Linked DNA regions of Homo sapiens: regions 2 and 3 are each reported to be linked to region 1. The links are microRNA targets in miRTarBase. Many come from high-throughput screens and were not tested one by one. Region 1 holds a microRNA gene; each other region holds the end of a gene's coding sequence.
What was found. Region 1 holds the annotated microRNA hsa-miR-922 (GCAGCAGAGAAUAGGACUACGUC, at 2,378-2,400, opposite strand). A microRNA usually pairs through its seed, bases 2 to 8, with sites in the 3' UTR of a target mRNA and lowers its output. Matches are read on the target gene's strand: a 7mer-m8 pairs with bases 2 to 8, a 7mer-A1 pairs with bases 2 to 7 and ends in A, and an 8mer does both.

Region 1 (7,187 bases):
CTCCTTTTATGTTAGTTCAACGAAAGCTCTAAATCCTTGGCAGAGAACGTCAAAAACAGCCTCATTTAAGTGGAAAATATTTGTCTTCCACTCTTCTGCTATGTCTTGAATCTTGTCTCCACCTGGTAAGCAAACTATGTTTTTTTTCTTTCCCTTTACTTACAGAAAGAACACTATCACCTGCCTTCATTTAGAAGGAATTCTCTTCAGTGCATTCAAAGCTTCTCCCCGCAACAGCAGGGGATTTTCAGATAGTGGTAACTTGCAAAGTGCTTCCAAAACATCCCATCCTCTACCCACTTCCCCCCTCTTGAATAAATAACTGGGTATTTGGAAGGTGAGGACGGCATCGTGTCAGAGTCACTAAAACAGACGCACGATCTAAAGGGATGGGGTGCGGTTGAGGGAGCTAGGGAAAAATAAGTGACAAGTGAGGAGCCTATGAGACTGTTGAGTTCGGCTTCAGAAGCTGTCAGCATTGTCATCCTTTGATCCTATGCTGATGTGAAACAGGCAGGACAAGACGGCACATCTGTCCTCCAGCGCAGTGACCTGGAGAAAGAGCTGGATGTGTCACCTTTTTGTTTTTTGAGACGGAGTCTCACTCTGTCACCCAGGCTGGAGTGCGGTGGCGCAATCTCGGCTCACTGCAACCTCTGCCTCCCAGGTTCAAGCGATTCTCCTGCCTCAGCCTCCCAAGTAGCTGGGATTACAGGCGTGTGCCACCACGCCCAGCTAATTTTTGTATTTTTGGAAGAGACAGGGTTTCACCACATTGGCCAGGCTGGTCTCAAACTCCTGACCTCATGATCCGCCCGCACTGGCCTCCCAAAGTGCTGGGATTACAGGTGTGAGCCACTGTGCCTGGCCTGGATGTGTAATTTAAACCAAAACTGGAAGTAGAGCTCATTTTTATAAACTCCTGGGTCTGAATCTGGGACCTAACCCCTAGTTAAACTTGAGTTCTGTGGGGTCATTCTTAAAGCTCCCTGAAGGACCTGGGCACTTCTAGTCACAGCCCTTCAGAACTTCTGGGACTTGGCTTTTTGAGTCTCACTATGAACAGAAGGGAGAACAGCCTCAGGGTCTTCTAGCCCTACATGGCTTTCAGATCCCAACTTTGAGGCAGAGGAATCAAGGGCAGGGGCCAGTTCCCACATGTTCCCTCTCACGCTGGTGGAGCCTCAGCCCTGGCCATCACCTTAATGCCTCTCCCACTTCCCTGGGAGACTCCTTCTTACCGCCAGCTCAAGCTCTCATCAGCTTCCACCAACCACAGGCAACTTTCCGCTCAGCTTCCAGGGCAGCACCCACGCCCATTTCTTTCCTACCAGCAAGCAACTATGAGAAGACATGCCCATGGGCAGAATTCAATCCCAGAACAAAAATGATGCAGGCTTTAGTTCACAGAGCTGCCAGCTCTTGGAGAAGCCACTCTGACCAGTGTTTTCACAGAGGTTAGAAGCTGCATCAACTTAAGGAACATCACAAACACACACATGGCCCCACCCAAGGACTTCACTGTCAACACACACATTAACGGGGGGGAAGGGGGAGGCAGCACACCAAAATCAGCATTATCAAAAGGACTTCACCATCAACACACATTAACGGGGGGAGGGGGGCAGCACACTAAAATCAGCATTATCAAATGAACAGATAAACATTACCAGGCTACACAGAGTTAAGTGCATAATTGGCATAAAGGCTCTTGTTATCCCAAGAACACAGGGACATTCACACTCACATCCACAAACCGTCAAGTTCTGTAACAGCACTAATAGCAGGAAGCTTTTCTCCAACTTTGACCAAAGAAGCTAAGGCAAGAGAGACTCGGCCACCAGGGAAGGACCCAGCTCTGCTGCAGGAAGGGGAGAGAACGGAGTCGGGTTGTACTTTTACTCAGAAGCACAACGACCATCTAACAGAGGACAGAGTCATCAGGGACACGCTAAGAAGATGGTGGGTGAGGTTCCTGTCCTCACCTTAGGATGGCATCAGGGACCTGCCTGAGCTTCAAAGATCACACCTGCACCAAAAAGCCAGGTTAACTAAGAGACCTTAACACCAAGAGGGGGCCGACCGCTCCTCTGAGTAAGCGCTCCTTCAGCGACAGAGCTGGCGCCTCACGTATGCTTGCGGCGTAAGGCTACAGGTGAGCCTGGCCTGAGCATCAGTTCTGTTCTTTGCTTCAAGATCACCAAGGTAGATGAAGAAAGTCAGCTTGTGGCATCCTCTATGCTTCAAATATTTCAAACAGGAACTCCCGGCAACATAGGGACATTCACAGCTGCCTCTGAGGTCTCTGAGGAGTCTAGGATAGTCAGGATTGTTCTGTGGCCCCCAAAATACCCAAATAAGTGGACGAAATGCCCATGACGTAGTCCTATTCTCTGCTGCTTCTCCTCGGGGCACAGTCTGACCCCAGTCCAGGACAGGGAGAGGGAAAACGCCATCCCCGTTTCAGCAGCAGGAGAGGTGGTTGAGAAAGGCCTGGCTCAGAAGCTCCAGAACTGAAACAAAGGAAAATTGGAAATGATACCTGACATGCAGGTGAAACCTAGAGGAGAAGGCCACAGACGCTGGAAGAACTTGGTCTTGCTGTCTCTTCCACTGACAGAGGCACTAGAAGCTTCACTGAAGGACCCGCATGTCAGTTCTGATGGAAACACCTGGTGTTTACAAATTATCTGTCACCACAGACTCTGGACCCATCAACCTGCCGACGGCTGACTGCACACAGACGTCAGACAAGTCAGTAAAAAAAAAAAAAAAGATGATGATAATTAAAAAAAAAAAAAAAAAAAGAAGCCCCAGGTGGGGCGAGTCCTTCAAAGAGTGGCTCAGTTCTGCAACAGGTGTGACCCGGCCCGGAGGGAGGGCTGCACGTGCTTTCTTCAGGTGGCCTCCAGGACGGCGGCTTCCAGGGCCAGCGCTTCCGCGGGCTCCTCCTCGTAGTCTGACAGGTAAGACTCCAGGCTCTGCCTGGCCAGTGCCTCCCGCCGGGCCTGCAGCCGCTCGCAGCGCGGACAGCTTCCAGACTTGAAGCAGGCTTTATGGTAACACGCTTTACACTCTACTCAGGTTGGGAAGGTGGGGGAGAGAAGAAAACAATTTGTATTATCTCCAGCTAGAGGTCAGTTGCTGCCACAGCCCCTTCTCGCCACCAAGGCGTGGTGTCCCCTGGGGAGGCCCCGCGAGGTGCTGAGTGGCACCGAACTCTTGCTAACAGGGGTGGCTCTGGGGAATCAAGGAGCCCTGTGTTCAGGCTCACTTGCCCGATGCCTGCACCTGCCCTCACCTTCACAGGTCCGGCACTTATGGAGCTCAAAGGGAAAGATGATGTCATCCTCATTCTGACAGAACTCACAGATGAAGCCTTTGGCTTGGCAGAGCTGGGGAGGAAAAACACAGATGGCAAAATGAGGAGCGGCACATCAGGAACTGGCACGGGAGGGTGAACACCGAGGAGGGGAGTGGTCTACAGGGTTCTGCTGCCCACAGGGAGGAGGCCTGGGCTGGACTCAGAAGCATGAAAGCTAAACTAGGACCAGGGCCGGGCAGCGTTAGACAAAGCTTTAGGCAGAAGATCAGACAGGCACCAGCCGGAGAAGCTCCGACCCCCAGCGCGGCTCTCCATGAAGAGAGGAGAAGGAGGAAATGGCACCACAAAGGGCTTCCTAAGCCGACAGTCCCATCTGGGTCATGATTTTATTTCAGAATAGGAACCACAAGCAATTAAGATAAAATGTGGAGACGAGGCTGTTCCTCAAACACAGCTCCAAGCCTGGAGTCAGGTTGTAGTGAAGGATTTCCAGTTCCTCCCAGACACACAGGGTTTCCTACCTGTGCCCAGCTCGAATTATGGGACGGTCACAGGAACATAAACTGGGCATAGGCTAAGACAGGAAGTTCTAAAAGTGTAATTTCTGCATTTTCAACATGTTGAGTAGATGACGACAATAACGACGTGCGTTTGAGGAATACATAAAGTATACAAAACGCTGTCATACAAATTACCCCATCAACCCTCAAAAATACTGAGAAGAAAGTAAATTATTCTCTTCATCTTAGAGCCAAGAAAATCGAGGCCTCAGAGGGGACAAAGTATTTATTTTGGTCATAATGACTGAGAACAACAAATGACGGCCGAGGGTAGACTCCCTCTCGATTCCAATCCAGAGCTCTCCTCTCACATCATGACAACTGCCTTTTTTTTTTCCACTCTTGTCGCTCAGGCTGGAGTGCAGTGGCATGATCTCGGCTCACTGCAACCTCCGCCTCCTGGATTCAAGCAATTCTCCTGCCTCAGCCTCCCGAGTAGCTGGGATTACAGGCACCCGCCATCATGCCCGGCTAATTTCTGTATTTTAGTAGAGATGGGGTTTCATCATGTTCGTCAGGCTGGTCTTGAACTCCTGACCTCAGGTGACCCGCCCACCTCGGCCTCCCAAATTGCTGGGATGAGAGGCCTAAGCCACCGTGCCTGGCCAACACTTCTTGAGTGAAAGTCTACTCGGTCTTGCCCGGAGCTACCCAGGACCACAGCCAGCACCAGCTCCTCCCCTCACTCGAGGTTCTTTAGATCAGGATGATTTGGCTGCTCTCCAGGCTAAGGAACAGCAGCCCTTTCCAGTTCCTCTCCCAGTGCTGACTGGCCATTTCAACTTCCTCAAGCTAAGTGGCAAGAACCCCAGGTCCACCCCCCTCCCTGTATCCCTAAAAGCAAGGGCTCAGCTGCATGCTACAGTGAGACTTTCTCACCATGCATCTCTCCACATGGGTAGCCCCTGCCCTGGTGAGCTCAGCAAGCCGGGGCCCCAGCTCCCCCTTCCTGGTCGCAGTCAGGTCATTCAGTGAGTACAGGTGGAGGTCCTCTGTCAGGTGGCCTGGGACTGTGTCAAAGGAATCCAGAAGCCTACAGGGAGTGACAGGAGGCAGGTGAGGGAATGAACAGTGCATGTGCCACATCGTAGTAGAAGGATCCCTATCCAGAAACTGCAGAAAGTAATGAGGGTGGGCACCCATCAGCCAGCCCAAGGTTCCAGGCCGCCGCAGCCGTTCCACGCTATTAGGTGTCTGGATGGCAGGAGTGACTGATTTATAGGCTCCTGCAGAGTGGCCCATGTGAGACCCAGCCTGGGAAGAGAGGTGGCCTGTCCTGGATGGAATGACCACAGATCCCCTTCCAGAGAGAAGGACACAGATACAGTTACTGCTGTGGCCTCCTGTTTACCACTTTACAGTTCTGCAAAATCTCTCTACTCTCCTTCGTTACATAACAAGAGCCAAGCGCGGGGATGTGTCCCTTTCGGAGACAGCAACGTGGCCAGAGGGCTCTAGCTCCAAAAGGACTTACTCCTTGGCCAGTCGGCAAGTCTTGAACATGTTCTTCATGTGACACAGCTGGACCCGCAGCAGCTGAAAAGAAAGAGAGGGGGGCAGGAGTGGGAGGGAGATGTGAGAAGAGGAATCCAGTGTGGGAAGCCCAGGGCCTTTAAACCCTGGGGTTCTAGAAGCCTTGCATGCTGCACCCAGAGCAGACTGTCCTACGCTCTGACAACTGGCTCCAGACTGTCCTATGCTCTGACTCGACACCTGGCTTCAGATTGTCCCACACTCTGACTGACAACTGGCTTCAGACTGTCCTACGCTCTAACTCGACACCTGGCTTCAGACTGTCCCACACTCTGACTGACAGCTGGCTTCAGACTGTCCCACGCTCTAACTCGACAACTGGTTCCAGACTGTCCTATGCTCTAACTCGACACCTGGCTTCAGACTGTCCCACACTCTGACTGACAACTGGCTTCAGACTGTCCTACGCTCTAACTCGACACCTGGCTTCAGACTGTCCCACACTCTGACTGACAGCTGGCTTCAGACTGTCCCACGCTCTAACTCGACAACTGGTTCCAGACTGTCCTATGCTCTAACTCGACACCTGGCTTCTGACTGTCCCACACTCTGACTGACAACTGGCTTCAGACTGTCCTACGCTCTAACTCGACACCTGGCTTCAGACTGTCCCACACTCTGACAGCTGGCTTCAGACTGTCCCACGCTCTAACTCGACAACTGGCTTCAGACTGTTGTATGCTCTAACTCGATACCTGGCTTCAGACTGTCCCACACTCTGACTGACAACTGGCTCCAGACTGTCCTATGCTCTGACAACTGGCTTCAGACTGTCCTATGCTCTAACTCGACAACTGGCTTCAGACTGTCCTATGCTCTAACAACTGGCTTCAGACTGTCCTACACTCTGACAACTGGCTTCAGACTGTCCTACGCTCTAACTCGTCAACTGGCTTCAGACTGTCCTATGCTCTAACTGACAACTGGCTTCAGACTGTCCTACGCTCTAACTGACAACTGGCTCCAGACTGTCCTACGCTCTAACAACTGGCTTCAGACTGTCCTACGCTCTGACTGACAACTGGCTTCAGACTGTCCTACACTCTGACAACTGGCTCCAGACTGTCCTACGCTCTGACAACTGGCTCCAGACTGTCCTACGCTCTAACTGACAACTGGCTTCAGATTGTCCTACGCTCTGACAACTGGCTCCAGACTGTCGTATGCTCTAACTGACAACTGGCTTCAGACTGTCCTACGCTCTAACTGACAACTGGCTCCAGACTGTCCTACGCTCTAACAACTGGCTTCAGACTGTCCTACGCTCTGACAACTGGCTCCAGACTGTCGTACGCTCTAACTGACAACTGGCTTCAGACTGTCCTACGCTCTAACTGACAACTGGCTCCAGACTGTCCTACGCTCTAACAACTGGCTTCAGACTGTCCTACGCTCTGACAACTGGCTCCAGACTGTCGTATGCTCTAACTGACAACTGGCTTCAGACTGTCCTACGCTCTAACTCGTCAACTGGCTTCAGACTGTCCTACGCTCTGACAACTGGCTCCAGACTGTCCTACGCTCTGACAACTGGCTTCAGACTGTCCTGTGCTCTAACTGACAACTGGCTTCAGACTGTCCTATGCTCTGACAACTGGCTTCAGACTGTCCTATGCTCTAACTCGACAAGTGGCTTCAGACTGTCCTACGCTCTGACAACTGGCTTCAGACTGTCCTACGCTCTAACTCGACAAGTGGCTTCAGACTGTCCTACGCTCTGACAACTGGCTCCAGACTGTCCTATGCTCTGACAACTGGCTTCAGACTGT
Region 2 (7,187 bases), not on the chromosome of region 1:
GAGCCTGGCGGCCGCGCTCGCCCAGCACTCGGTGCCGCTGCAACTGGAGCTGCGCGCCGGCGCCGAGCGGCTGGACGCTTTGCTGGCGGACGAGGAGCGCTGTTTGAGTTGCATCCTAGCCCAGCAGGTGCGGCCGGGCTAGGGTCAGGATGGGGTAGGGCGGGGATCCGCGGTTAAGTCCCCCGTGACGGCACGTTCCATTCCCCTAGCCCGACCGGCTCCGGGATGAAGAACTGGCTGAGCTGGAGGATGCGCTGCGAAATCTGAAGTGCGGCTCGGGGGCCCGGGGTGGCGACGGGGAGGTCGCTTCGGCCCCCTTGCAGCCCCCGGTGCCCTCTCTGTCGGAGGTGAAGCCGCCGCCGCCGCCGCCACCTGCCCAGACTTTTCTGTTCCAGGGTCAGCCTGTAGGTGAGGCGCAGGTGGAGAGGCGGGGTCACCAGGAGGTTGGAGTCTGGGGAGGGGCAGGGGTCGTTGCCGGGTGGGGATGGGTGGGACCGGCGCTGGGGGTCCCCGCCCTCACCCCGTTTCCCCACTCCCTCTGCAGTGAATCGGCCGCTGAGCCTGAAGGACCAACAGACGTTCGCGCGCTCTGTGGGTCTCAAATGGCGCAAGGTGGGGCGCTCACTGCAGCGAGGCTGCCGGGCGCTGCGGGACCCGGCGCTGGACTCGCTGGCCTACGAGTACGAGCGCGAGGGACTGTACGAGCAGGCCTTCCAGCTGCTGCGGCGCTTCGTGCAGGCCGAGGGCCGCCGCGCCACGCTGCAGCGCCTGGTGGAGGCACTCGAGGAGAACGAGCTCACCAGCCTGGCAGAGGACTTGCTGGGCCTGACCGATCCCAATGGCGGCCTGGCCTAGACCAGGGGTGCAGCCAGCTTTTGGAGAACCTGGATGGCCTTAGGGTTCCTTCTGCGGCTATTGCTGAACCCCTGTCCATCCACGGGACCCTGAAACTCCACTTGGCCTATCTGCTGGACCTGCTGGGGCAGAGTTGATTGCCTTCCCCAGGAGCCAGACCACTGGGGGTGCATCATTGGGGATTCTGCCTCAGGTACTTTGATAGAGTGTGGGGTGGGGGGGACCTGCTTTGGAGATCAGCCTCACCTTCTCCCATCCCAGAAGCGGGGCTTACAGCCAGCCCTTACAGTTTCACTCATGAAGCACCTTGATCTTTGGTGTCCTGGACTTCATCCTGGGTGCTGCAGATACTGCAGTGAAGTAAAACAGGAATCAATCTTGCCTGCCCCCAGCTCACACTCAGCGTGGGACCCCGAATGTTAAGCAATGATAATAAAGTATAACACGGATTTTGATGTGAGAAATACAAGTAGTAGTGGCTTACACCTGTAATCCCAACAATTTGGGAGACAGAGATAGGAGGATTGCTTGAGCTCAGGAGTTTGAGACCAGCCTGGGTAGTCCCAGCCACTTAGGAGGCTGAGGTGGGAGGATCCCTGGAGCATGGAAGGTTGAGGCTGCAGTGAGATGTCACTGAGCTACTGCACTCCAGCCTGGGTGACAGAGTGAGACCCTGTCTCAAAAAAAAAAAAAAAAAAAGAAAGAAAAAAAAAGAGAAGTTGTGGAGGATGGAGGAAGGGGCCTAACCTGGGCAGGGGACAGGGGGTAGGCTTCCTGGAGGAGATGAGTGTGAGTAGGCATAGGGGTGGGCTATCGAGAGAAGGGCAGTGTTCGGGGCACAGTCTCAGGCAAGGGCTTGAGGAAGGCTTGTGGGTTTTTCAATGAGGCCAGTAGGAAGCCTTTGAAGAGTTTCGGGAGTTAAGACTGGGAGGTGGTTGTTTTTTTTTTTTTTTTAATTTTAATTTTTTTTCAGATGGAGCTTCACTCTTATTTCCCAGGCTGTAGTGTAATGGCACGTTTTTGGCTCACTGCAACCTCCACCTCCTGGGTTCAAGCAATTCTCCTGTTTCAGCCTCCCAAGTAGCTGGGATTACAGGCGCCCACCACCATGCCCAGCTAATTTTGTATTTTTAGTAGAGATGGGGTTTCTCCATGTTGGTCAGGCTGGTCTCAAACTCCTGACCTCAGGTGATCCACCCACCTTGGTCTCCCAAAGTGCTGGGATTACAGGCATGTGCCACCGCACCTGGCCAAGACTGGGAGGTTGATGAGGATGGGGGTGGGGGAAATGGTGGCCCCAGGCTGGGGCAGTAGCAGCAGAGATGGAGGGAAGGGGATGACCACCAAAGAGCTGTGTGGGTGGAAGAGTAACAGGCCTGGTGACACTGGGTGAGGAATGGCTGAGAGAGGGCCCCAAGTTTCTGCCTTTGCCAGTTGGATGGTGGGTGGGACTGCTTGCTGGGATGGGGCCCTGGGGGGAAATGAAATGCTTGCTCTGTTTGGGACAAGTTGAGCATGATGTTCCTGCAGTGCATCCGGGGAGAGAGTATGAGGGTAGTTGGGTCTGTAGTTCTGAGTTCAGGATGAGGGTTCAATCTAAAGATTGATGAATAGACAGGTGGGGAGTGGGTGGGGTGGCCCCAGGGGATGTCCTGAAGGACACCAACCAGAATGGGAACAGCCAAAGAGGAAGGAGGAAAACCAGGAGATTTGGAAACCAGGGGATTACCCACCCACTATAATGGAGCGGGTAGTCAAGACCGAGGAGTGTCTGTTGGACTCAGTTAAAAGGAGCTTACCAGTCAGGGGTCTTTCTGAGTCATGGTGGAGGCAGCCCGAAGCTTTATCACAGGAGGGAATGGAAGGTGAGGCCGCGGAGAAAGCTGGAGCAGAGGACTCCTGATTACTTTGTGACCAAAAAGAGTAAGGCTCAGGGTGGAGATTTGGCTTTTTTTTTTTTTTTTTTTTTTGGAGAGAGTCTCACTCTGTTGCCAGGTTGGAGTGCAGTGGCACGATCTCGGCTCATTGCAGCCTTCGTCTCCCGGGTTCAAGTGATTTTCCTGCCTCAGCCTCCCAAGTACCTGGGATTACAGGCACGTGCCACCATACCTGGCTAATTTTTGTATTTTTAATAGAGACAGGGTTTCTCCATGTTGGCCAGGCTGGTCTCAAACTCCTGGCCTCAAGTGATCCACCTGCCTTGGCCTCCCAAAGTGTTGGGATTACAGGAGTAAGCCACCACGACTGGCCTTTTTTTTTTTTTGAGACAGTCTCGCTCTGTTGCCCAGGATGGAGTGCAGTGGTGTGTTCTTGGCTCACTGCAACCTCCACCTTCCAGGTTCAAGCAATTCTCCTGCCTCAGCCCTCTAAGTAGCTGGGATTACAGGTGCCCACCACCATGTCTAGCTAATTTTTGTATTTTTAGTAGAGATGGGGGTTTCACCACGTTGGCCAGGCTGGTCTTGACTTCCTGACCTCAAGTGATCCACTCACCTCAGCCTCCCAAAGTGTTGAGGTTACAGGCATAAGCCACCACACCCAGCCAGAGAGGTGGCTTTTTAAGATTGAACATTGGTGGGAAGAAGCCGTCAGGAGCAGATATAGCCCTTGGACAGAGGATGGGGCTGGGTTCTTAAGAGACCAGTAGAGGCTGTCTATTCCAGGCTCCACCACATGGGCTGGGACCAAGAAAGAGAGAGCTGGCAGCTGAGCTGCGCAAGGACTTAGCTCTCCATTGCAGAGCACCTCTGTCCACCTGCATCCCAGAGCAATCCTTTAGCCAAGGCCTCCGCCAGGAGTCTTCCCAAGCTGTCCCCATCCTTGCCAGCCCTGTCTGACCTGCAGCTGCACAGGCCTGATCATTTCTACCTGCAGTAGGCTATGCTGGGGACCAGGGGACTCAGAACTGCACCTGGCTTGGGCTCAGGTCCATTAGCCCCCGGGGAGACAGGCTGAAGTGCTTGCCTGTGAAATTAAAGCAGACTGGGTTGGCCCCCTGTTCTGTATCCCAGTGGATGAATGAGCGGGGCAAGGACAGATAAAATAATCCTGGCCTGAATTTCAGAAGACCTGGGGGCAGAGCTTTCTGGCCTTTGGATCCTGGGCAAGTCACTTAACTCCCCGAAGAGCCCCCCAGTGTCCCCATCTGGGCATGAATGAGAGCTGCTGGCAGAGTTGCCCTGAGGATTGGGTGGGCTGCCTTGTTTGTCCCGTGCGTGTGTTTACTGGGGGTGGGGAGCATGGCAGAACCAGGAGTAAGAAGACAGCCATGTGTCTCGGGGGCAGCGTATGCACCCTGCCTGATGGAATCAGGGCTGCTGAGGAGAGGCCCGCCCGGGATGGTGGCCAGGTTCATGCGCATTTGGAACCGGCCTGCTCAGGGGCTCCTAGCAGCCCAGGCTCCGCCCCACTCCAGAGACGCGGGAGTGGGGAGTGGATAGTTGGGGGAGCTAACCAGGGGAGTTGATGCTTCTTCCCAATCCCCAGAAAGGCGAATTTGGGGTGTGAGCACCCAGACCAGCCCTTCCCAGAGGGACTGAGAGTGAGGAGGCTCCCTCTCAGGGATTAGTCCCCACTCTGAGGCCGGAGTGCTCCTGGCGCCGGGGCGGAGCTGAGCTCCAGAAGTCTGGGCGCGCACAGCTGGAGGGTCACGTGGCACGGCACCGGTCCCCCTTCCTGCCAACGCTGCATTTGGCTCGGGCCCGGTCCATGGCGGCCCCTCGGACCCTGCGCTGAGCCCCGGAGGCCAGGGCGTCCGGGGCTGCGCCACTTCCGAGGGCCGAGCGTGAGTGTCGGGACCCCAGGGCCCGACATTGAGGGGATGGCAGGGTGGAAGGGATTCGGCCTCAGCGCGAGGGAGGCGGGCGGGGGAGGGGCCGAGGCTCCCAGTCTCCCTGCCCGGCCCTGGGTCGCAGTCCTGGGCCGGAGCTGAGGCCGCGGGGGAGTTGGCTACATGGGTGAACTTCTTGTCCCTTCAGGCTGCCGGTCCCGGCGGTGCGACACGGCCGGGAGGAGGAGAACAACGCAAGGGGCTCAACCGTCGGTCGCTGGAGCCCCCCCCGGGGCGTGGCCTCCCGCCCCCTCAGCTGGGGAGGGCGGGGCTCGCTGCCCCCTGCTGCCGACTGCGACCCTTACAGGGGAGGGAGGGCGCAGGCCGCGCGGAGATGAGGAGGAGGCTGCGCCTACGCAGGGACGCATTGCTCACGCTGCTCCTTGGCGCCTCCCTGGGCCTCTTACTCTATGCGCAGCGCGACGGCGCGGCCCCGACGGCGAGCGCGCCGCGAGGGCGAGGGAGGGCGGCACCGAGGCCCACCCCCGGACCCCGCGCGTTCCAGTTACCCGACGCGGGTGCAGCCCCGCCGGCCTACGAAGGGGACACACCGGCGCCGCCCACGCCTACGGGACCCTTTGACTTCGCCCGCTATTTGCGCGCCAAGGACCAGCGGCGGTTTCCACTGCTCATTAACCAGCCGCACAAGTGCCGCGGCGACGGCGCACCCGGTGGCCGCCCGGACCTGCTTATTGCTGTCAAGTCGGTGGCAGAGGACTTCGAGCGGCGCCAAGCCGTGCGCCAGACGTGGGGCGCGGAGGGTCGCGTGCAGGGGGCGCTGGTGCGCCGCGTGTTCTTGCTGGGCGTGCCCAGGGGCGCAGGCTCGGGCGGGGCCGACGAAGTTGGGGAGGGCGCGCGAACCCACTGGCGCGCCCTGCTGCGGGCCGAGAGCCTTGCGTATGCGGACATCCTGCTCTGGGCCTTCGACGACACCTTTTTTAACCTAACGCTCAAGGAGATCCACTTTCTAGCCTGGGCCTCAGCTTTCTGCCCCGACGTGCGCTTCGTTTTTAAGGGCGACGCAGATGTGTTCGTGAACGTGGGAAATCTCCTGGAGTTCCTGGCGCCGCGGGACCCGGCGCAAGACCTGCTTGCTGGTGACGTAATTGTGCATGCGCGGCCCATCCGCACGCGGGCTAGCAAGTACTACATCCCCGAGGCCGTGTACGGCCTGCCCGCCTATCCGGCCTACGCGGGCGGCGGTGGCTTTGTGCTTTCCGGGGCCACGCTGCACCGCCTGGCTGGCGCCTGTGCGCAGGTCGAGCTCTTCCCCATCGACGACGTCTTTCTGGGCATGTGTCTGCAGCGCCTGCGGCTCACGCCCGAGCCTCACCCTGCCTTCCGCACCTTTGGCATCCCCCAGCCTTCAGCCGCGCCGCATTTGAGCACCTTCGACCCCTGCTTTTACCGTGAGCTGGTTGTAGTGCACGGGCTCTCGGCCGCTGACATCTGGCTTATGTGGCGCCTGCTGCACGGGCCGCATGGGCCAGCCTGTGCGCATCCACAGCCTGTCGCTGCAGGCCCCTTCCAATGGGACTCCTAGCTCCCCACTACAGCCCCAAGCTCCTAACTCAGACCCAGAATGGAGCCGGTTTCCCAGATTATTGCCGTGTATGTGGTTCTTCCCTGATCACCAGGTGCCTGTCTCCACAGGATCCCAGGGGATGGGGGTTAAGCTTGGCTCCTGGCGGTCCACCCTGCTGGAACCAGTTGAAACCCGTGTAATGGTGACCCTTTGAGCGAGCCAAGGCTGGGTGGTAGATGACCATCTCTTGTCCAACAGGTCCCAGAGCAGTGGATATGTCTGGTCCTCCTAGTAGCACAGAGGTGTGTTCTGGTGTGGTGGCAGGGACTTAGGGAATCCTACCACTCTGCTGGATTTGGAACCCCCTAGGCTGACGCGGACGTATGCAGAGGCTCTCAAGGCCAGGCCCCACAGGGAGGTGGAGGGGCTCCGGCCGCCACAGCCTGAATTCATGAACCTGGCAGGCACTTTGCCATAGCTCATCTGAAAACAGATATTATGCTTCCCACAACCTCTCCTGGGCCCAGGTGTGGCTGAGCACCAGGGATGGAGCCACACATAAGGGACAAATGAGTGCACGGTCCTACCTAGTCTTTCCTCACCTCCTGAACTCACACAACAATGCCAGTCTCCCACTGGAGGCTGTATCCCCTCAGAGGAGCCAAGGAATGTCTTCCCCTGAGATGCCACCACTATTAATTTCCCCATATGCTTCAACCACCCCCTTGCTCAAAAAACCAATACCCACACTTACCTTAATACAAACATCCCAGCAACAGCACATGGCAGGCCATTGCTGAGGGCACAGGTGCTTTATTGGAGAGGGGATGTGGGCAGGGGATAAGGAAGGTTCCCCCATTCCAGGAGGATGGGAACAGTCCTGGCTGCCCCTGACAGTGGGGATATGCAAGGGGCTCTGGCCAGGCCACAGTCCAAATGGGAAGACACCAGTCAGTCACAAAAGTCGGGAGCGCCACA
Region 3 (7,157 bases), not on the chromosome of region 1:
TTGGGCCCCTCTGAAGCAGGAAACCAATGGTGGAACTCTCCCACCTCAGCTGGTGTTGCTGCCTGGGGAGAGGGGGAGGAGCCAAGGCTGGCCTGGGGCTGGGCCAGAGGGTTTGAGGGAGAAGGGGGCAGGGGAGTGGCAGCCAGGGCCACATCAGGTACAGGTGGCCACCACGGTGTGCACAGTGGTCACTGGGTCACCTGGGGCCAGGGGAGAGGGCACATGTCTTCCTAGCCCGTCTTCCCCCAGCAACTTCTGGGGGACCCTTCTGTTGCTCAGAACAGAAGGGTCTCTGTGCAGCCCTGCATGTGGACTGTGCCTCACGGGACGTGATTCCTCAGCACCCTTCCCGATGAAGTAGGTCCTTCTCGCCTCCACCCCTGCTAAGCAGGCACTGTGCGTTCTTGTGTCTTCCAGAAGGCGCCGCTCCTGCTGCACTACAGACCCAAGATGGACTTGCTGTGAATGGTGCCACACAGCGCCCACAGACTGGGCCCTCGCACCCTTGGGTGCTCCCGGCCGCCGCGCTTAAGAACATTGCCTCTGGGTGTCATGTGGACCAGACTTCTGAATAGAGAATATTTATAACTTTTGTATGAGAGAGAATTCACACTCAACAAGACACTACCAGCACCACGTTTACAGAGGATGAAAACACTTCACAGTCTCCCAGAGCCGATCGTCCTCTCCCCCGCCCCACCCCGTGCTTCAGCCTTGCAGGGAGAGTGATGCTCCAGGCAACACGGTTCTGAGTCACCTTCTGACACGAGCTCCCTCTGCTTGCTTTCCAGGTCTTGAAAATCTGAATTCACTTCAGTTTAGTTTATGAATTTTAGGTTTCATGATAAGCCTCAAGTGTAGTTGGACTTTTATTGAATCCTTCCTAAGTTATTGAAAAAATGTCTTTTCATGGTGAATGACAATATTTATGTTGCCTTTAGCTTCTTGAAGATTTAGAAGTTATATAAAAAATTAATTTAAAAGCAAACCAAAAGAGGTTTCCATTAACATTATGATTTAACCATTGTATTTAATTTCCCACCTTATGAAACACAACAGCAGCTCCCTGACTGGTTCGCCTTTCATTGTGTGAGGTCGGCACTTGGACTCACTCAGAACTGTCGCTCACCTGTGGCTGACACACCCAGCCCTGGAAACGGGGCCCCAGACGCCACGTCGGGATTTCTGACATGCTCAGCAGGTAGACCAGAGGCCGTGTGACCAGCTCAGTGCTGGTTTACGGAACAACTCTTACTTTTAAAAATTACTTGTTCCCCCAAATTGTTGAGTGCCGCCGTTTGGTTTCCTATGTTTTCTTTCCCTGTTTTGATTTTGCTGAAGGGAGAGGTGGTGGTGGTTAGGATCAGAGCTCTCCTGGCATCCGTGGGGAGGATTTGCTGGTGGTGGCTTCGGGCTCATGCCCAGACACACTCACTGCCCCGTCTGTCCAAGGCCTCCCCTTCCCCTTTGCTGGTGGGAGGAGCTCGTGTGCTCCTTGGCCGCTTACTGGAAGGGCGTTTTTCAGAGCTGCAGGGACAGGGTGAGCAGCTGAAGGGCTAGGAGGGAAGCCGGCCCCCGCTCTGCAGAAGCTGCATTTCAGCTGAATCTGTGTTTCAGCCTCAGTTGGTTGCACCGTTAGCCCCTCTCCTCCCGGATGGTCATGTTTTTGTCACATTAGAGAATAAACAGCCACACACACATTTTTTTTTTTCCTTTAAAACAGTAACTTGGAAATATGAAAAGGCCAGAAGGAGGAGCAAGGGCTGTTTTCTGGAGTGGTTGAGGTGTTGTCCTGCAGTTGTCATTGTCTTCTCCACCGGGCTGTTCCCATTTATTTCCTGTGGAACTGAATCCCTCCTCCCTCCACTCCTTGGGAGCCCAGGTGGTCCTTGGCCACCATTCAGGCTTTCCAAGAAGCCAACCACCTTGGAGATTTTTTTTCTTGAATTTCGCTGTTTTCTTCTGCTTCCTTTAGATAAAAAGCAGCTCAAGAGACCTTATCTTAGGGATGAGAAAAACATGCATATTAATTCCATCTGAGTGATTGTCAGTGTAAGGCCTTTTAAAACAAAAGCAAGTTCTTTGTTAGGAATTGGTCAAAATTCATCTCTTTCTTTAAGCCCATCAACTCCCAGGACGGTTTGAGTTACTCAGTTACCTAAGCTTGCTATTCATCCAAATCATTTTCTAGAGTCACTGTATAAGGGTCTATGAGTAGCTGTGTATGAATAAATATTACCTGTCTACCTCAAAATACACATACTGCTGAAGCATTCTGTACAACCGTGTGTTATCACAGTGCAGTTTTAAGTGTAACGTTAGAACTTAGGCATTTTCCTGTGTGGCGGAATAAGAAAGGATTAAACAGTTACAAGCCTCCAAATTCAAATAAAATTAAATCACAGTTCAGATGAAACTGAATATCATTGTAATAATCTCATAATATATATTTGTAACTTTGTAGCTATCTTTGAAATCACTTGACTTTGCAATGGTGCTAAGCTGATAGATTTAAATACACAGACGGGCGAGTGGCGCCCGTGTCGATGTCTTCAGCCAGTGGTGACCCTGCTTTTGTAACCGCGTTAACCTGACAAAACCTCAGCAGCAGAAGTCCCTATTTTTCTAGGAGTTCATCGTGCAGACAGTCTTCACTACAGGACTCGGCCCTGGGGCCTCTGCCTCTCGTCTGACCTTGCAGCCTTAGTCGTTGGAGGCTGGAGCGCAATGGCCCTGCCGTCTGTGGAGCCTCTGGGCGGCCTTCTTTCCTTTCTGTCAACCTCTCATTTCACAGAAAAAGGCTGAATTTCATTTTTTCCAGCATGAAAGCCAGGATCGGTTAGTGGTTGGATTCTATTGGTTTTTTTTTTTTAAACAGATGGAGTTACTGTGAAGAAGTTTTCACAACTATTTATGCTGGTAAAACAAATGCTGTTAAATCACCTTATGCGTCGTTTTCAACAGCAGTGGGGCTAATTACCCGGAATACGGTCTCACCGATGCAGTTTTCATGGACATAGAAAATTCAAATAGAATATATAATATTGAATTTAAGATTTGGGGGGTTAAAAAAGAAAACTTAACTTTATAAAATTATTTATTCTATTTTAAGCCTTCTATCATATTTTCCCATCCAATTGTTTGGTTTCAGTGGTCCAGCTTTATTTACAGGCATATAAAATGAAATTGTGAGATGTTTTGCAAGCTTCTTTTTACTTTGAGTAGCTTTTAATTTGTATGTTTTTATGTGGATGAAGAGCATTTTTTATGCTTTTGTGCAATAGGTTCCAATATGCATTTATTAGACATCTGTTTAAATGGTAATGTAGCATTTATTTTGCTAAATTGAAAGGGAACATAGATGGAATTCCAAAATATGTACATTCAGCTGTTTGGTTTTTCGTTTTTCATTGTTATTATTGTGAGAATGCTGTTATTGGGGTTGTGTGTGAGTGCCCGTCAGCCAGTGATGCCTCGGGCCACGCTGTGGGGCCACCTCAGTCCTGCCTGGGTCCTGGTGCCTTGGACCCCACGTGCTTGTGGCCAGGCTGCCCCTGGGCAGGGCCATGTGGCCTCAGACCACAAGAGCGGAGCTGCCCTGGCCCAAGCACTGCAGCTGCCTGCACCCCCGGGCTTCGCAGCCTTGCTTGTTTTCTCTGAACAGCAACAGAACAGTGTTCACAGCGATTCAAAGGGTGGCATTGGGTTGGACGTTCTGGGTACAAGCCAACCTAGTCCCACGTTGTACGTGAATGTTTAATGTGCTCTCAAAACATGGAAAATAAGTTTAGTGCACATAGCTAAATCACAAAACATCCAATTTCTCTGTTTCCTCAGGAAGTCATTACTGCGCCACCACATCACATGACCTTAACATGATCAATGTATTTCTCTGCCTTGACATTTAAATACATAAATTGAGATAAGTAGATTAGAAAATCATTCAAATGATACCATAATTTGTACGGGACAGGGTGCGGGCAATGGCCACGTGGCCAAGGCCCTGCAGGAACGCGCCGAGGTCTCCCTCACCCTCCAGGTGTCCTTCGCACCCAACAGTGCGTCTGAGGAACGAGCTGCAGTTTGAGCGTTCCCCTGAGATGTGCGTAGCCTCCGTGTAAATGTCCACTCCCATGGCTTAATTGCCTATCAGACGCATTTTCCCAGACGAAAGCAATGTTGGGTTGGGGAAGACAGTGCAGCCACCCAGCCTTTACCAGCAGCGTACGGCAGACGAAGGCAGTCGAGGTGTGGAGGTGATCACGAAGATACATGTGTTTGACTGTTTAATTTGAAAGTTTACATTTTTTATGCTTTGTGTTGGTGTGTAATTTTTGTACTCTTGGTGGCTAGTTTTTGTCAAATCTTTTTTGGAATATTGCTTAAATGTTTTGATTTTATGATAGTGAAGCTTGTATTCAGTGTTTTGCCAATTAATATTATATGCTTGTAATAAAAGCAAAAGAAAAGCTTAAGTGAAAGTGTTTCTGGCTGGAAATGTATTACATAAATCATTTGTATGAGCATGAGAGATGACTTGCTCATGGGATGAGCAATGCTGTGGGTATTGGATGGACCACTCAGGCAGCCTGGCCGCACACACACACATGCATGCTACATATGTGTACGCTCAGACCACATGCCTGCACATATGTCCACACACCAGCCCACGGCTCCCTTCCTCACCCCAGCCCTCCCCACTCCCAGGTTAACCAATGTCTCGATTTGCTTCAGGCGGCATTTGTAAACTGTCACCCTGCTTGCAAACCCTCATTTAAATTGGTCCAGCATTTGCTACCAGAGTTTAGGCCACAAACTTTGTAAAGCTCAGTTTGTCTCCTTGCAGAAAGAGGTTGCTGCAGTTTGGAGCTGGTTATGCCAAGGAAAATACGGCTAAAAAAGAACTTACTGATTCCCATAGGTGTGTCAACTGACAAATGAATGTTCCATCTCCCTACGACAATTTGCTGCCCCTCCCCAAAAAAAGCACTATGGCCAAAATTTCAGTTTTTAAAGGTTAAGTAAAATACAACAATTCTGAAACTCTTAAGAGAACCAGAATTGGAAGGAAAGGAGAATGGCCAAAATTATATTCTCACAACCTAAAGCAGTAAACTTTAAAAATAGGTTCAGTCTTAGACTTGACTTAATTGACTTAGGCTGGGCATAGTGGCTCACACCTGTAATTCCAGCACCGTAGGAGGCCAAGGCAGGCTGATCATCTGAAGTCGGGAGTTCGAGACCAGCCTGGCTAACATGGTGAAATCCCGTCTCTACTAAAAAATATAAAAATTAGCCGGGTGTGGTGGCAGGGGCCTGTAGTCCCAGCTACTCAGGAGGCTGAAGCAGGCGAATCGCTGGAACACAAGAGGCAGAGGTTGCAGTGAGCCGAGATCACGCCACTGTACTCCAGCCTGTGCTACAGAGCAAGACTCCATCTCAATTTAAAAAAAAAAAAAAAAAAAAAAAAAAAAGGACTTGGCGGGGTGCAGTGGTTCATGCCTGTAATCCCAGCACTTTGGAAGCTGAGGCGGGTGGATCACAAGGTCAAGAGATCGAGACCATCCTGGCCAGCATGGTGAAACCCCATGTCTACTAAAAATACGAAAATTAGCCAGGCCTGATGGCACGCACCTGTAGTCCCAGCTACTCAGGAGACTGAGGCAGGAGAATCACTTGAACCCGGGAGGCAGAGGTTGCAGTGAGCCGAGATCGCACCACTGCACTCCAGCCTGGGCGACAGAGCGAGACTCCATCTCAAAAAAAAAAAAAAAAAAAAAAAAAGACTTCACTGACTCAAAGTGTATTTTACTTATTTTCGGCCAGTCCATCTGTCCATCTTAGAAATGTCAAGATACTGGCTGAAACCACAAGCAGACACTGATGTCAGCGTCAACTGCAGGGAGTAGGGGAAACACAAGTCCTCAAAATTGGGTCCACCCACTTTGGGGACTGGGCCATGAAGCCTGGTGATAGCAGCCACGGGAGCCTGAGGTCTGAGAGCTTCAAGCTCCATCTGAGCACAGTGGGTGGGGTCCCTGCACCAGGACCCCAGAAACAAGCTCTGGAAGTTGGTTCCTGTGGGTTCTGCAGCAGCTCAGGGCTGCAGGGACCTTGACGCTCTCACAGCAGAGCCAAGCCTCGGCCTCTCTGCTCGCTGGTGGTTTTGTTTCTCCCATGCAGTTCTGTGTGCATAAGACAAAAATCCTGTGTTAGTCATGTGTGTTAGTACACCTGTGACCGGGTGAAAGCCAAACAGTGTCCCCTGAAAGGCAGCAGAGGAACAGAAAAACAAGGGGGTTTGCTGTGATGAGACCCGCACCGTCTGCGTTCAGGAAGCCAGGGCCTTCTGCTGCTAGAGGCCCCTGAGGCCCACCAAATCCTCCCAAAGTAGATGTCCATATGGCTTCTAGTTTTTAAGGATAAAACTCCCTTGAGATGCACTGAGTCCCTCCTGAGGGGCTGTGGAGGGCTGAGCCTGCATTGGTTGGGAGGCCTGTGTCCTGACGGTGCTCTGCAGTAGCTACACTGAACGTCCCCTTTAATAGAAAGAATTATCTGTCTTCCGCTTACACAGAAATGCAACTGTGCTTACATAAATCAGCACAGAGTCCTAAATCCATAAATAAGCAAAGAGTCCTTTCTCTTACCCACATTACTCCTCAGTCAAGGAAAGTACACAAAGCACATTTGTTTCATTTTTTTTGGTGGCTTATGCTCCAATTGTGAGGAAGGAGATGCTCCCCTGGGCCCACCCCGCCCACCCCAGAGTGTCTGCCCACGCCAATTCCTGGGGAAGGTGTGGCCTGCTCAAGGGATAAGACTCCTGTCGACGTTGGACAAACAACCATTTGACCACTACATTTATTCCTATGTTTTTTCTTTGTGTGTGTGTGTGTGTGTGTGTGTGTGTGTGTAGACAGAGTCTCACTGTGTCACCCAGACTGGAGGGCAGTGGTGTGATCTCGGCTCACTGCAACCTCTGCCTCCTGGGTTCAAGCGATTCTCCTGCCTCAGCCTCCCAAGTAACTGGATTACAGGCACCTGCCACCACGCCAGGCTAATTTTTGTTTTTAGTAGAGACGGGGTTTCACCACGTTGGCTGGGCTGGTTTCTAACTCCCAACCTCTGGTGATCCGCCCGCCTCGGCCTCCCAA

Region 2: the mRNA of TRADD is a reported target of hsa-miR-922. Seed matches in the 3' UTR shown: 7mer-m8 at 965-971.
Region 3: the mRNA of PCGF3 is a reported target of hsa-miR-922. Seed matches in the 3' UTR shown: 7mer-A1 at 2,263-2,269.

Annotation. Positions count from the first base shown.
Region 1 is chr3:197,672,121-197,679,307 of GRCh38, forward strand. MIR922 (microRNA 922) reads right to left here and starts at 2,456; the gene lies at 2,376-2,456. RUBCN (rubicon autophagy regulator) reads right to left here. Exons shown (of 20, transcript NM_014687.4): 17 at 5,360-5,421; 18 at 4,765-4,918; 19 at 3,302-3,395; 20 at 1-3,076. The coding sequence ends at 2,898.
Region 2 is chr16:67,148,317-67,155,503 of GRCh38, reverse strand. It overlaps TRADD (TNFRSF1A associated via death domain), which reads left to right. Exons shown (of 5, transcript NM_003789.4): 3 at 1-127; 4 at 210-408; 5 at 545-1,319. The coding sequence ends at 855. It overlaps PHAF1 (phagophore assembly factor 1), which reads right to left. Exons shown (of 16, transcript NM_025187.5): 16 at 6,960-7,187. It overlaps B3GNT9 (UDP-GlcNAc:betaGal beta-1,3-N-acetylglucosaminyltransferase 9), which reads left to right and starts at 4,506. Exons shown (of 2, transcript NM_033309.3): 1 at 4,506-4,639; 2 at 4,833-7,187. The coding sequence starts at 5,019. The coding sequence ends at 6,227. RefSeq lists silencers at 1-54, 4,551-4,710, 4,721-5,150.
Region 3 is chr4:765,615-772,771 of GRCh38, forward strand. It overlaps PCGF3 (polycomb group ring finger 3), which reads left to right. Exons shown (of 11, transcript NM_006315.7): 11 at 418-4,475. The coding sequence ends at 465. The region is part of intron 1 of LOC124900163 (chloride intracellular channel protein 6-like); the gene reads right to left. The region is part of intron 1 of PCGF3-AS1 (PCGF3 antisense RNA 1); the gene reads right to left. Among named protein-coding and RNA genes, the nearest start is that of PCGF3-AS1, 13 kb to the right of the region's middle. RefSeq lists enhancers at 1-280, 370-429, 3,133-4,074.